Homo sapiens: one gene and its partner. The protein of the gene in region 2 purifies or fractionates together with the protein of the main gene of each other region. This does not show direct contact. Each region holds a gene or a part of one and is shown on either strand. Other genes may lie near its edges.

Region 1 (3,656 bases), on a different chromosome or scaffold from region 2:
GCCCATGAATGTGGGCTTATCAGAAACTCAAAATGGAGGCATGTCTCAAGAAGCAGTGGGAAATATAAAAGTTACAAAGTCTCCCCAGAAATCCACTGTATTAACCAATGGAGAAGCAGCAATGCAGTCTTCCAATTCAGAATCAAAAAAGAAAAAGAAGAAAAAGAGAAAAATGGTGAATGATGCTGAGCCTGGTAGGTATTTATTATCTTTGAACTTCAGCCATTTAGTTTTTCACAGACGGTTATTGTTCCTCTTTCTATTACTATTGTGTGCACATGACATGAGAATTCCCTGTACTCACCAGTATGTTAGAGATTAGCCTGGTAGCTAATGGAAACATTTTATTGGCAGAAGCGGGGAGTCCATTTCAACTTTTCTCAAAATATTGAGGAATATATTTTTAATTTCACTAACCTTGAAGAAAACCTCTCTCAGAAAAGACTCTCCTTAGAATTCTAGAAATTTTCTCTTCTTTTTAAGTTACCTTTTTTCCTGCTTGATTCTTCCCATTTTCCTTCCATAAATTCCTCCCTTTGAAAGGAATATTAGTTACAAAGTATATAAAGTAGGAAACTTCTGAATAAATGGAACATTAATTTCCAAGTGCTAAGAATGGCAGGAGGAAAAGGAAGGAATGTTTTTTGAAGATGATGGAATTTCAGTAAGCTCGGATGAAAGAATGGACATTATAATTGAGATTTGTATAAGCAGAGATATCAAGGTAGGATAAGATAGGGGTCAGCAAACTATCCCTCCTTCTACCTGTTTTTGTAAATAAAGTTTTACTGGGTCATAGCAATGCCTATTTGGTTGTGTTTATGGCAACAGAGATCATATGACCTGCAAAGCCTAAACTATTTACTATCTGGCCCTTTGCGGAAAGTTTGCCAGCCCCTGAGTTGGAACATCCTATTCATGTATTTTACCTGAAATAAGGGTTTTATTTAGAAAGGGACTTTGAACTTTTCCAAACATGCATTACTGTCTTCATGATGCCTACACACAGAAGTCATTGTAATCCTGTTCTAAAATTATTGCCTTCACAATTCTTGTTTTGAGTATGCCCCAGGAAGTGGTATTATTTCTGCTCCCAAGCATTGAATCACAATGCTGGGCGTTTTAACCTTATGGGTTTTTTGTTTGTTTGTTTGTTTGTTTGTTTTATTATGAGATGGGGTCTCACTGTGTTGTCCAAGCTGGTCTTGAACTCCTGGGCTCAAGTGATCCTCCCACCTCGGCTTCCCAAAGTGCTGGGATTACAGGCAGAAGCCACCACACCCAACCACCTTATGGGTACATTTTAGGAACTATTCCAGGGAAAACAAAATAAGCCATGGAGACCAGCTGAAGATATCTGTGGCTTTTGAACATGTAGGTCCTACAAAGTTGACTCTTTCCTGGAAGGGTGGCCGTCAGGTACAGGGAGGAGACCAGTACTGAGCTACAGAGAGTCCTGGGTTGTGGTCTAAGTTCTTTTCAAACATCACTAATTGCCATATAGTTTTATATAAACACAGCATGTGGTTAATCCATTTGACCCAGAGTCGAACATTGAAAAGAGAAGTGAGAGGTAGGACTGAAAAGGTAGTTGGGGCCACATGAAAGTTGTGAATGTAGAAATGAGGGTGGGAAGAAGCCCTGCCTTTCCTCCCACCCTCATCCCTGATAGCCAAGGCACAGTCCAGTGTATGTCAGCCAGGCAAGTGGGTTGTTGCCCTTCCTTTACAGTCTATCTCTAGTAACATGAAGAGCCTTTGATAGTGATTGGCGTGGGAAGAAAAATGACTACTTATAATGAGTTTTTAAGGATTATGTTAATCAGGTATGCTTCCTTTCCCCTCAGTGGAGTATGTGAAACTTATAATTGGTATGTTTATACTGTTTAGTTGAACAAAAGCCTAAAAGGTTTTGTCACCAAGTCTGTCTGTACCCTGGGTTTTTAAATACAACCACTCATTTTTCACCAAACAGAATTCTTAACAAATTAATACAGCATATACTTAGCTTTTGAAAATATACGTCTTTATATCAGAGATCTTCTGTTTGTTGATCTCATTTGGAATTCTATTTTAAGGAAAAATTTTTTCGGATTTTGTCTTTTAAAACCAAAGATACGAAAAAAGCAAAAACTGAAAACAAAGGGAAATCTGAAGAAGAAAGTGCCGAGACTACTAAAGAAACAGAAAATAATGTGGAGAAGCCAGATAATGATGAAGATGAGAGTGAGGTGCCCAGTCTGCCCCTGGGACTGACAGGTAACGTCCAGGAAGTTTTCTAGAGGTAACTTCTTTAAAATGTGCCTCTCTTAGAGGATTATAGGTTTGAAGGTTCAGTTGTGACTTTCAGTTTACCTGAAAAAAGTAACTATCAACAAGAAACTTTTTTTATATCTTTCTGCTGCTTTTTCTCTTTATCTTCTATTTTGTGGTGTTTTAGTTCTTTTTGTTCCCTGTTTTTTTCCTTTTGTTCATTCCTGACACCAAATATTTTATATGCACACTAGCAGCTTCTAGGATTCCTTGGTTTGTCCTTTTCTGAGTCTCATTCTATGTTGTAATAGGAAAATGATTGGCCCTGTACGAGGTTAACCTCCTTTGGCCTTTGTTCCTTTATAAAGTTGAGTTTAGGCTAGAATTCACTGCTCCTAACCAGATATGTCTAGGAGTTACTTGAGTTGTTTATTTGGTTTGGGTTGGTTGGTTTGTTAAAATGTTGAGGCCCAACCCTAGACCTGCTTAATCCAAATTGCAAACGTTTTGGTAGTAGCTCTCGAGCAGGGAAATTCGCCCCCCGAGTAAGAAGAGTAACTCTTCCTGGTTTGCCCAGAACTTTAACAGTTTTAGCACTGAAAGTTCTGAATCCCAAGAATCTCCTCTGTCCCTAGCCTACTGAGAAGATTGGTCATCCTAAGCCTAGGAGACATTTTTGGTTCTCAGAGCTAGGAGCAGTCTGCTGGGATCTGGTGAGTAGAGGTCAGAAACACTGCATAATATCTTATAAGGCACAGGATAGTGTTTCACAGCAAAGAATTATTCAGCCCAGATGTCAGCAATGCCAAGGTCAAGAGTGATTGGTTTACACCCTGGGCATGTGGAGTATGGGGAACCCCCAGGTGATTTTGATGCCTTCTGCTGAACCACCACTGTATTACTTGATACGTAGGCTCAGCCTAACATTCTGTGGCTGTATCTGACTCTTCTGTGTCTTGTTGGAGTGAGATTAACAGGTTTTTTTTTTATTATTGACTTCACACTCAGTTTTTATTAATGCTCAATGTTTTCACTTTTATATCAGATTTCTTAAACATTTCATTTATCTCTGGACTCTCATTATTTTCCTTGTTTTGGTATTTTTATTTTATATAAATTCCTTGGTTATACCTCCTCTCTACCCCTTGTTTTGTTATAGTATGGTCTCTGGACTATAACTCACACAGCCGTTAACAGTGGAGAAACTTGAAAGATATAGGGTCTTTTTCTTGATATTATCACATATGAATAATTAAGGTTTAGCCTTTTCTTACTGCGGGAAGCTTTTCTAAGCAAAATAGATTTAGGCAACTGTAGCAATACTTTTTTAAAAAAAAAGATAAATTTGCTAATGATAAATTGTCTTCTGTTTAGGAGCTTTTGAGGATACTTCGTTTGCTTCTC
Region 2 (3,656 bases):
CTAATCCCAAGTCAGCACATCCCATAACAGAAATAATTAGAGAAATAATGTGTATAACATTCTCCTCTTTCTTCGTTTAATGAAACCATCTATGCCCATCTCTTAAACTGGCGAGAGATGGGCAGCAACCTCTCAAGTTTCCAAGAAACATCTTCTTAGGAATAATAAAACTACTATCCAATAATGAAAATGTGCTCTACTTCATTTGGCACTGAAAACGAATAACAGGAAAATCAAACCACTTTCAGAAAAGAAAAAAATCAACCAAAGAAAAGGCTGGACCCAAAGGGAGTAAGGTGTCCGAGGAACAGACTCAGCCTCCCTCTCCTGCAGGAGCCGGCATGTCCACAGCCATGGGCCGTTCCCCATCTCCCAAGACCTCATTGTCAGCTCCACCCAACAGTTCTTCAACTGAGGTACACTCTTCCTGGTCCCATTTTGCTTTGTTTTTTTCAACCCAAAGTAAAGGACTGATTTCACCGGTTACTTAAAAATTGCATCGATAATTTGCTAGTTAATCCAATGTACATATTGAGAAACCACTACATTTTGATCTTTTGCTTTCACAGGGATACTTGATGAACTTGACATTATCTCTGACTGCAGGAAGTTTTCTGTTCTGTGTTGTTTGGGGAAGGGAGAGAGAGCTATGCAGTACAGAACTGTCAGCTGTGGGCTCACTGTCTACTGCTCCCATGTCCTTCATACCTCTTCCCTTGGTTCACTATAGTATTCCATGTCAGACCTCTCCAGCACCTGCTAGTTTGTGAATGAGGTTATCCATACCCTCAGCTCTTTTTCTTGTAGATTAAACAACCTCCCCTGCATTAAAACTGTTCTATCGCAGTTTAAGGAGACTGGGATGTTAAAGAGTAAAGATGTTAAAGAAAACCCTTTCTGAGCCCCAGGTTTCTGTTAGCATGCTACCTGCTAGAGCCCTGACACTGAGAAAGGCTATGGTGGTGGGAATGACACTCTGTAGAGTTTCTGCAGCCTGAACCTACTGAGATGATGGCATTCTGAGGGGTTTATCCTACTTGTGTTCTCACCTGCTGTAAGCAAACTGAATCTTGGGTAGGAACACTATGAAATGTGCTCTTTAAATTGCCCTGTCTACACTGGTGATAACTGAACACTCTTTGTGTCTATAGTTTGTGGTGGGCACCATTTTTCATTTTTTTTTTATTTTTATTTTTTTTTAGTATTTATTGATCATTTTAAATGTCATTTAACTTTGTCTATTTTTAGGCTCTGGCACTTTAAGCTGGTAAGAGAAATAGTATAAGAAATTATTTCATTCTAAAATTTATTTATTTATTTATTGTTGTTGTTGTTGTTGTTGAGACAGAGTCTCGCTCTGTCACCCAGGCTGAAGTGCCGTGGCATAATCTCGGCTCACTGCAGCCTCCACCTCCCGGGTTCAAGTGATTCTCCTGCCTCAGCCTCCCAGGTAGCTGGGATTACAAGCGCCTGCCACTACACTCAGCTGATTTTTGTACTTTTAGTAGTGCCAGGGTTTCACCATGTTGGCCAGGCTGGTCTCAAACTCCTGATCTCAGGTGATCCACCCGCCTCGGCGTTTCAAAGTGCTGAGATTACAGGTGTGAGCCACCGCGCCTGGCCCTAAAATTTATTAAGTTACTTCATGACACTGGCTTTCAGTATCCACTGGTCTTATGTTGCTCTTATGCTTTATTTCTTAAGGTTGATTCTGTTTACAGAAAGGTCATCTTTTCACTATATGGTCTCCTCTGTTACTTCATCTTGCTATTGTACCAGTTTAAGATATCTTCTGCCCTGGCTCGCAATCCCTCTCTATCCTGACTCCAGCTCTAAACATCTGTGCAAGTTTTGGGGCCCTGTGTTATACTGAGGTCACTGAATAGCAGTTCTGTATTTCTCAATTAGACATTTTTCTTTGTTCTCCTGTGCTATCATACACAGAACCCGAAAACAGTGGCCAAATGTCAGGTAACTCCCAGAAGAAATGTTCTCCAAAAACGCCCAGTGATAGTGAAGGTACTGAGTACAACAAAGCCATTTGAATATGAGACCCCAGAAATGGAGAAAAAAATAATGTTTCATGCTACAGTGGCTACACAGACACAGTTCTTCCATGTGAAGGTTTTAAACACCAGCTTGAAGGAGAAATTCAATGGAAAGAAAATCATCATCATATCAGATTATTTGGAATATGATAGTCTCCTAGAGGTCAATGAAGAATCTACTGTATCTGAAGCTGGTCCTAACCAAACGTTTGAGGTTCCAAATAAAATCATCAACAGAGCAAAGGAAACTCTGAAGATTGATATTCTTCACAAACAAGCTTCAGGAAATATTGTATATGGGGTATTTATGCTACATAAGGTAAGTCCTCAAAATTGTTTCGTTTCATTTTTCCACCAACACCTGAAATTAAAAGTCTTGATGTGTGAGATGAAGCTTTGCCTATAAACTGGATATTAGAATCCAGGACTCTGAAGACTAATGACAGGTGGATAAAGACTTCTCTGAAGATAAGACTGGGATTAGGGGACCTGTTAATATTTCTTTCCCATGTTCTCCTTCCCAGAGCATTAAACTGTAGTCTTTACAATAATGTTCACTGAGAAACCTTAAGACTTTATCAGTTGTTATTATCTATGCTAAGTGATCAAGGACATTGTGAGGTCTACATCCATACACACATGATACTAAGTTTATCCCTTTGATTATTATCTCTACTGTCATAAAAATCACATTATTTTTATTTTGAATGAAGTATTGTCCTCTGAGGCTTGAGTTCTGGTTGTGACAGTCAGAATAAGAAATAAATTGACTACTCATGGCTGGAAAACAAATGCAGAAAGTAGGTAGGACAATGTTCTGACCAAATGAAACTAATTCATCATAAAGAAATGGAACAATTGGGAAATACGAATTTGGATGATACTTGGAAAATCAGGTAATCTAAATTTGTCATTTATATATAAATAACAAAAAAAAAAAATAGAGTACAGAGTGCTTTTCCTGATATGTTCCTGTCCAAATTCATAACCAGTTAGCATGAGACATTCCACCCCGCAAAAAAGCATCTATCCTCTGCTATTGATTCAAGCAATTTATCTGATCAATACTTCATTACCCATTATATTTGTTTCCTAGAACAACTCATTAACCTGCGTTACTTTCTGTACACAGTCTTTTTTTTTTTTTTGAGACGGAGTCTCTGTCGCCCAGGTTGGAGCGCAGTGGCGCGATCTCGGCTCACTGCAACCTTCGCCTCCTGGGTTCAGGCGATTCTCCTGCCTCAGCTTCCCAAGTAGCTGGGACTACAGGCGTGTGCCATCACGCCTGGCTAAATTTTTTGTATTTTTAGTAGAGACGGGGTTTCACTATGTTAGCCAGGATGGTCTTGGTCTCCTGACCTCGTGATCTGCCCACCTCGGCCTCCCAAAGTGCTGGGATTACAGGCATGAGCCATTGCGCATGGCCTATATACACACTCTTAAAGAGATGATTCTTACAAATCCAGTTCTAGGATGATGAGTAATGAGCAAAAAGCTGGAATGTTTGAGCTCAAGGACTTGGTTTCAGGAGGGGGTACAAATATTGGAAGAGACTCAGTAAATGCAGAAAGTAGAAAAAGTAATTAGAGAGTTACCAGAAGCTTGCTT

What was found. Proteins that work in one complex are often made in the same cells at the same time.
Region 1: the proteins of IFI16 (region 2) and DDX18 purify together in Homo sapiens (affinity purification with mass spectrometry; 3 studies listed by BioGRID and IntAct, with this or other methods). This does not show direct contact.

Annotation. Positions count from the first base shown.
Region 1 is NC_000002.12:117,817,535-117,821,190, forward strand, and holds part of DDX18 (ATP-dependent RNA helicase DDX18), read left to right. Parts: coding exon 1-194; intron 195-2,114; coding exon 2,115-2,258; intron 2,259-3,626; coding exon 3,627-3,656. UniProt on the Homo sapiens protein: ATP-dependent RNA helicase that plays a role in the regulation of R-loop homeostasis in both endogenous R-loop-prone regions and at sites of DNA damage.
Region 2 is NC_000001.11:159,016,285-159,019,940, forward strand, and holds part of IFI16 (gamma-interferon-inducible protein 16), read left to right. Parts: intron 1-248; coding exon 249-416; intron 417-1,944; coding exon 1,945-2,367; intron 2,368-3,656.